Linked DNA regions of Homo sapiens. The protein of the gene in region 2 purifies or fractionates together with the protein of the main gene of each other region. This does not show direct contact. Each region holds a gene or a part of one and is shown on either strand. Other genes may lie near its edges.

The links.
Region 1: the proteins of SNX14 (region 2) and SNX13 purify together in Homo sapiens (affinity purification with mass spectrometry; one large-scale study listed by BioGRID and IntAct). This does not show direct contact.

What each region holds. Positions count from the first base shown.
Region 1 is NC_000007.14:17,790,495-17,793,994, forward strand, and holds the end of SNX13 (sorting nexin-13), read right to left. Parts: 3' UTR 267-3,500; downstream 1-266. UniProt on the Homo sapiens protein: May be involved in several stages of intracellular trafficking. May play a role in endosome homeostasis. Acts as a GAP for Galphas.
Region 2 is NC_000006.12:85,506,859-85,510,358, reverse strand, and holds part of SNX14 (sorting nexin-14), read left to right. Parts: intron 1-1,542; coding exon of another isoform or gene 1,543-1,589; exon of another isoform or gene 1,590-2,039; intron 2,040-2,045; coding exon of another isoform or gene 2,046-2,083; exon of another isoform or gene 2,084-2,299; coding exon 2,300-2,391; intron 2,392-3,069; coding exon 3,070-3,126; intron 3,127-3,500. UniProt on the Homo sapiens protein: Plays a role in maintaining normal neuronal excitability and synaptic transmission. May be involved in several stages of intracellular trafficking. Required for autophagosome clearance, possibly by mediating the fusion of lysosomes with autophagosomes.

The DNA.
Region 1 (3,500 bases), on a different chromosome or scaffold from region 2:
TGGGAAAATACTTTATAATTTGATACGATGAGGAAGTATAAAGTTTCTTTAACACTGTGGTGTAAATTATTTGCCCCATAAAAGAAAAAGTTAAATTCAGTCCATTTAAGTCAGTAATCACTCAAGCACTCATCTATCAACCTGGAACTTGAATTGGTTGATATCTAAAAGAAAAGAAAATACAAACAGATACTAAAAATAAGACTACTGAGCAAGCATCTTAAAAGTAACAAAAATACATTACTATTAAATGAACTCAACAAAAATGTTTGTTAATACTTTATTAGTATTTTCTAATGGACAGAACACAAACCAAATAAATTTTTTAATCCTTTTAGTTGAATAAAAATAACTGACATTCTGATTGTTGTTTCTTCTTTGTTAAAGAAAGAAAGTATTGATAGAACAGTTAGGCACACAGTTGACACTTACTGTACAATGATATGCACACATTATCTTTTAACAATTATAATCCTAAAATGTGCTCTTCATATTTTTTCCCTTGTAATACAGGAGCCATGCTCCTAAAAGCAAAATTTACTACTAATAAAAGAATTTTCCAAGGAGTGACAAAAAGACTTTTAAAACAAGTCCTTAAATAAAAGGATGCAGCAACAACGGAATGTAAGTTGTTGGATTAAGAAGACAGTTTAAGCTACATCTCAAAAAATTAAAAATTCATTTATCTTACAATTACTCAAATACACATGCATTAAATGAAAATATTGCACAAAATTAAAATTTTAGATTGTGAAATTTATATCATTCTTAATTTTTATAAAAATTGGTACACTTTCTGGTAGCACTTAACTGATTGATTTTTCTTCCCAAATACCAGCAGCACAAACTTAAAATGAACAAACTGAAATATTCAAGAAAGTTTTTGTTTTTTTTTTTTTTAAAAAAATTAAGGCTAACCAAGTGCATCCATTGGTCAATGGCACAATTGATTTCAGCAACTATTTGGAATATCCTAATTATAGGAAATGCCCATCTAAGTGATATATTTAAATAATACAATCAATTTTTTAAGGTGAATAAACTATGATGGTTTCTAAATAGTGTACATGTTACCTGAAAAATCAGAAAACACAAAGAATGATTAATTTCGAAAGTTCTTGCCTAAAGGCACCACTGACTTAAAAAACATTCAAAATCAAATACCAGAAGACATAAAGCCTCTTCATGTATATATTCATATATGCAATAAATGCATTAAATGTAACTTTATTAAACATAGTACACTGTACTTGACTTATGGTTAAATATTTTACACACAGCTTGACCAAGTCATTCAAAAAGTTATCTCTAATTTTAGCATGACCACAGCTCTTTCTGATGTAAAAGACAGATGTGCATAGAGAAGGTGCACCACCATTTACAAAGACTATCATTTGACATTTTCTGCTTCTGAAATATAAACTCTTCTAAACAAAAATTACTTTAAAAATCCATTTACTCAAATAGTTTTTGGTATGATTGCAGTTATCTTGCAGGGCTCTATTTTGAAAATTTGCAATATTACATGACCTTTATTTCCCTAATTGATGGCCAGTGCTCCTCACATTATATAGAAATGCTTTTTCACATGTACACGTTAGGGTCTTACATGAATTATTCTGTATACTGTTAGATTTATTCATGTCAAAAATATATTTGAAATGGGCAGAGGCATATATGAAAATCACTGCACTTATGGCCATGCTGATGCTTCCTACAGACATGTTTCATGTTTCAAACATTTTCACTTTTAAAGCCTGGGGCTCAGGGAGGGGCCAAGGCAGGGAGACACCCTGAGAAGAAGAAATACTATTTCTTCCACCAGAGCCACTAAGGATCTTTTCTCACTTGCAAGTTGCAATGAAAGGGATTTCATTTTATGTAATTCTGAAGACATGCAACATATGCTGAATATATGCATACTATAAGTATGCACAACAGCATTATTAATAAATATGATTATTATAAAGCTTTAAAGGAAGGCTTTATTCTGTTAATAACCCTCACTTTGTAAGTAGGATCTAAGTGAAAACAAGACAGTGATATCTTGTTCCAATCTTAAAGCTCCCAAATAACTGGGATACCAATACTCTGTCCCTTTATCTTAAGCACCCAGACTTTCTTTTAATACCAGGATCTTGGCTCAGTGGTCTGATAAGTAGCTTCATTATTTTAAGGTTTTAGTGTTAAATATTTTTAAAACAAAAAAAGCTGACACACCCAAACCCTTAGGCAATGAAAGTATTTAAAACTATGCAGAAATCCTGCATAGAAGGGATGTGAATACTTCTAAGATGGATAAAATGGACAGTCAGAAAACTATAGGAAATACAGAAGCTCCAAAACTAGAGAAAGTATTTTATTTTATTGATATAAAATTAATTTATGGGTTTAAAGGTATACACTGAGGGGTCTTGCCTACTAGCTTTATTTTGTAGAACTTTACATTATGTGAAATATAAATAAAAGCATATTTTTAAAAATATTATAGTTCTTTTTTCATCATTTATTTTCATATATGTACACTGTCATAGAATTAGGAATCTGTATGTTTACTATGACTAATAAGCTCATTAATCATTTAATTTGCTATTTCTGCAGTTACCTAAGGCATGTCTAGATCACACAATTAAAAATTATCATATGGTAACTTTCCAGACTACTATTTAAATTTCCATATTTTTAGAAGGACAAAATGTATTTGGCAGTTCTTCCAATAAATTATATCTTCTGTATAATCAGTAATCTGTTAAAGATAAAACTAATAATTTTGAAATTTAAATGAGAGCCACCACATGCTTCTTTTTGCACAAAGAATGCCAAAAGGAAACATAAAATTGAGTACCCTAAGAGCAAAACACAGCCCTTAAAGCACACATAAGAATAAAAATTGTTGTATACCAATGAATAACAAATCCAATCAAATTCTGTGTTTGATTGGTTTTATTTTATACTCAGCTTTATTTTATATCACAAAACTGTAATTCAGGTATAAGGTTATTTCACACTTTAAGGGCATTCTGTCTCTTTCTCCAGACCTGAAAGAGATGTTTCAAGGATCATTCACCTGGCTAATCCACAATATATCAAAATGCTGACAGACCTACAAAATCATTATGCCAAACAAACTCCTCCAAGTCGTACATTGCACAGTCTCCAACTGTTAAACAAATTAGCCAATTTATCTCTGAACCATTGTTTTGTGCTTTCCTTAGCTTTCATATATACACTCTGGCACTTTGTCATTGCTGGAGAATGCTGATTAGTTTGAAATGGAAGAAACCAACGCCATTCTTGCTTGAGATGGGGGCAGTTTTCTCTCAATGTTGCAAAATATGCACCAAATCATTTAAGACACAGAAATCTCTCTTGGTAGTGGTGGATTATAGATGAGAATGAGAAGAACCACAGACTTATGGATGTATTAATAATCTATTTTGAGACACTAAAAGACTGGTGCAGACACAACAGTATTTGAGTTAAGCCCCAGAAGATCTGTC
Region 2 (3,500 bases):
TTTAAAACAATGAGATACCACCACACACCTGTTAGAATGGCCCAGATCCAGAACACCAACACCACCATTTGCTGGTGAACATGTGGAATTCTCATTCATTGCTGGTGGGCATGCAAAATGGTGTAGCCACTTTGGAAGACAGGTGAGCAGTTTCTTACAAAACTAAGCACACTCTTACCATGAGATCTGGCAATTATGTTTCTTGATATTTACCCAAAGCAGTTGAAAACATGTCCACCCAGAAACCTGCACATGAATGTTTATAGCAACTTCAGAATTGCCAAAACTTGGAAGCAACCAAGGTGTTCTTTATTTAGGTGAATGGATAAATAAACTCATACTTCTAGACAATGGGATATTATTCAGTGCTATAAAGGAATGAGCTGTCACATCATGAAAAGTCATGGAGGAGCCTGAAATTCATCTTACTAAGAGAAAGAAGCCAATCTGAAAAGACTGCATACTGTATATTTTCAACTATCTGCTGTTTTGGAAAAGGCAAAACTAAGAAGACAGTGGATTGGAGGGGAGGGAGGGATGAATAGGCAGAGCAGAGAGGATTTTTTGGGGCAGTGAAACTACTCTATAATGATGGTTACATATCATCATCTATTTGTCCAGACCCACAGAACGTACAACACCAAGAACGAACTCCAATGTAAATTATGGACTCTGGGTAATAATGATGTACCAATGTGTGTTATCAGTTGTAACAAATGTACACTCTTGTTGGGGATGTTGATAGTCGGGGAGACAAGACAGGGAACATATGCGAAATCTCTTCCTTCTGCTCAGTTTCATTGTGAACACAAAACTACTTTAAAAAGTAAAGTTTATTTTAAAAAGAGGAGGTCTTAGGACAGAACCTTAGAGAATTCTTAATATTGAGGAACTAGCCTTAGAATAGTTCTGCTCTTCCTTGTGAAAATAATTAACTTAAATATCTGCTCTGAATATAAAACTGAACATAAGCTGTTTTTGAGTAAATTTTCTGTAGGCAAATGATGAAATAATTTTTTTTTACCTGTTTTCTGATATAATGACCCTTAGCATTCATACTTTCAACAGTCTCAGCTTTGATACTCAGAAACAACATGGAGAGCCAGAGAATATAGTAATTTGTTATTTTGCTGAGGCACAAATTCAAACCACATTCACTTTAAGACTCCCGTTTGGGAGAGTAACTTAGCTCTTGAGCAAGCTTACCATTCCTTTGTGTTATCCTCTGCTCCTCATCTCTTACTTAGTGACACCTGAAGGATGTGAAAGAATTACGTATATTTGTTCATTAGTTTCATGCATATTAATTGGGAAATTCCATGTAGTATTGGTGAGTTTGAGGATTAACAAAGATTTGTATTGGGCCACATATCTTGAAAATACCAAGGATGTACTATGCCTATTGTAAATTAAATTTGGCTTTGTCTCCTAGCATTAGAATTTTTTATGACCAACACTAGGAGTTTAGTTATGATAGGGGAAAAAGGATAAATATTTGAGTACCTTGTTTATATAAGAATAACTTCTTTTTTTTCTGCTTAGGGAAGCATTCAGTGGAGATCTTAATAAGGATTGACTTTTCTTGGTAACAGAATTGATATCAGTGGTACATGACATCTATGCAGCCAGACACAAATCTGAACTCGTTGGACCCTAAATAAGTGTTTAAATATTTGTTATATTTCCCAAAATGATTGGTTTGTAAGATGGTTAATAGTAACTTATGCAAAAGTCCAGAAATTAGGTGTTCTTATTCACTGAGAAAAGTCTGCCTTAAAAATTAAACTTTTTTTTTCTGATATTAAGAGCACTATGAAAATATATAGAATAAAAAGTAGAAGCTATCTTCTGCCCACTGGGTAGAAGTCGGCTTATCCTACATTGGGTGTTAATCCTTACATTTTTCCATGCATTTCTATACATGTATGTACAGATGTACAAACATCATTTTAGGGTTTAATTTGTTTTGTTTTCCCTTAGTGGGGTAATACAATAAGTATTATTTTCCAACTAGCAGATTTTTTTTTTTTTTTTTTTTACTGCAGCATTTCTCAGAGTTTGCATTATGCCTTGTGCATTGTGAATCTCCAAAAATGGGATACATGATACTGCATTTGTCAACTTGACCATAGAAACCTCTTATCCAGGAGCCTCTTATAGAAACACTGGTTTGGGGAGTATTGATTTGCAGTTTTTGCCTAGTATCTGGGAAACAGGGTGGTGATTTTGCTTTATGATCCAGTTAATGGTGAGTCACTTTATAATATAAAATTATTTCACATTTGGCCTTTTTGTTTAGATCTGTTAGTCAAGTGTATTGGTGAAGAAACCAAGTATGAAAGCATCAGACTTCTGTTTGATGGCTTACAGCAACCAGTACTCAACAAGCAGGTAAAGCTCATTAAAGCTCGTAAACTCATGCTGGCTAGGTTTGGTGAACGACGTAGTAAGGTGTCTGGTAACTCATTAGTTGTATAAATGACACTATACTAAACCAAGGCAATATAATTTTAAACATTCAGATAGAAAAAAAGTTTTATTTGAGTTACTCTTTTTGTTTCAGTTTTTTCTAAATAAGATGAATTATTTTGATTTAAAATTAATATATAGTAATTGTAGAAAATTTGGCATAGAAAATTCATGAAATACAGTAAAAAATTAAAAATGGATAATTCCATTATTCAAGTCACATAGAATAACCAGTTAACATTTTTATGTTTATGGTTTATGTAAACTATGTATAAGCTTTATATATTCTGTTGAGATCTCAATACAGTTGTGATTTTGTGTTCTTGTTTTTCTAAAAATTCAAATATTTAACATAAAAATGAATTAATGAGGCATAATGAAAGTGTCCTCATGCAAACACATGTGTACTTATTACCTATTTTGAGAATAGAACATTATTGATACTACTGAGGCTACTTTTGTGCTTGTTTTATATTATCAGTCCCATTCCCTGCCTTCCCACTTAGAGGTAACCACAATCTTTAATTTTGTGTGTATCATTTTTATGGTTTTTGTGTTTAGTGCCTTAACATTTATTATTATTATTTTTTGGTGCTTTAGCTGACTTATGTTTTATTGGACATTGTGATACAGGAACTGTTTCCAGAGCTCAATAAGGTAACTGAAAAGCAGTAATTTTATTCATGATTTTCTTAATGGTATGCTGACATTTATTTTAATTAGGGACATAAATGTAAGAAAACCCTTGTCTCTGTTCTCTGTGGTTCTTTAAAAAATTAACCTCAGCAAATTGCCTTTTGTATTTTCTTTATTAAACATGCCCAAACAATTCTGGGGGACAGCTATTGAATAGCTTCTGCTTTGACTTCATCCCTTTTTAATTACAAGCAGATAGGGACCCTATATAGTCTTTCCAGGGGAAGAAGTGAGTGTAAGTCCTAGCACTAGAATAGGCCAAGCTCAGTGTTATCGTCTGCACCATTGTATGCTGTGTAAGTCAGAAACTAGAGTATTTTTGAAGCAAGTTTTAT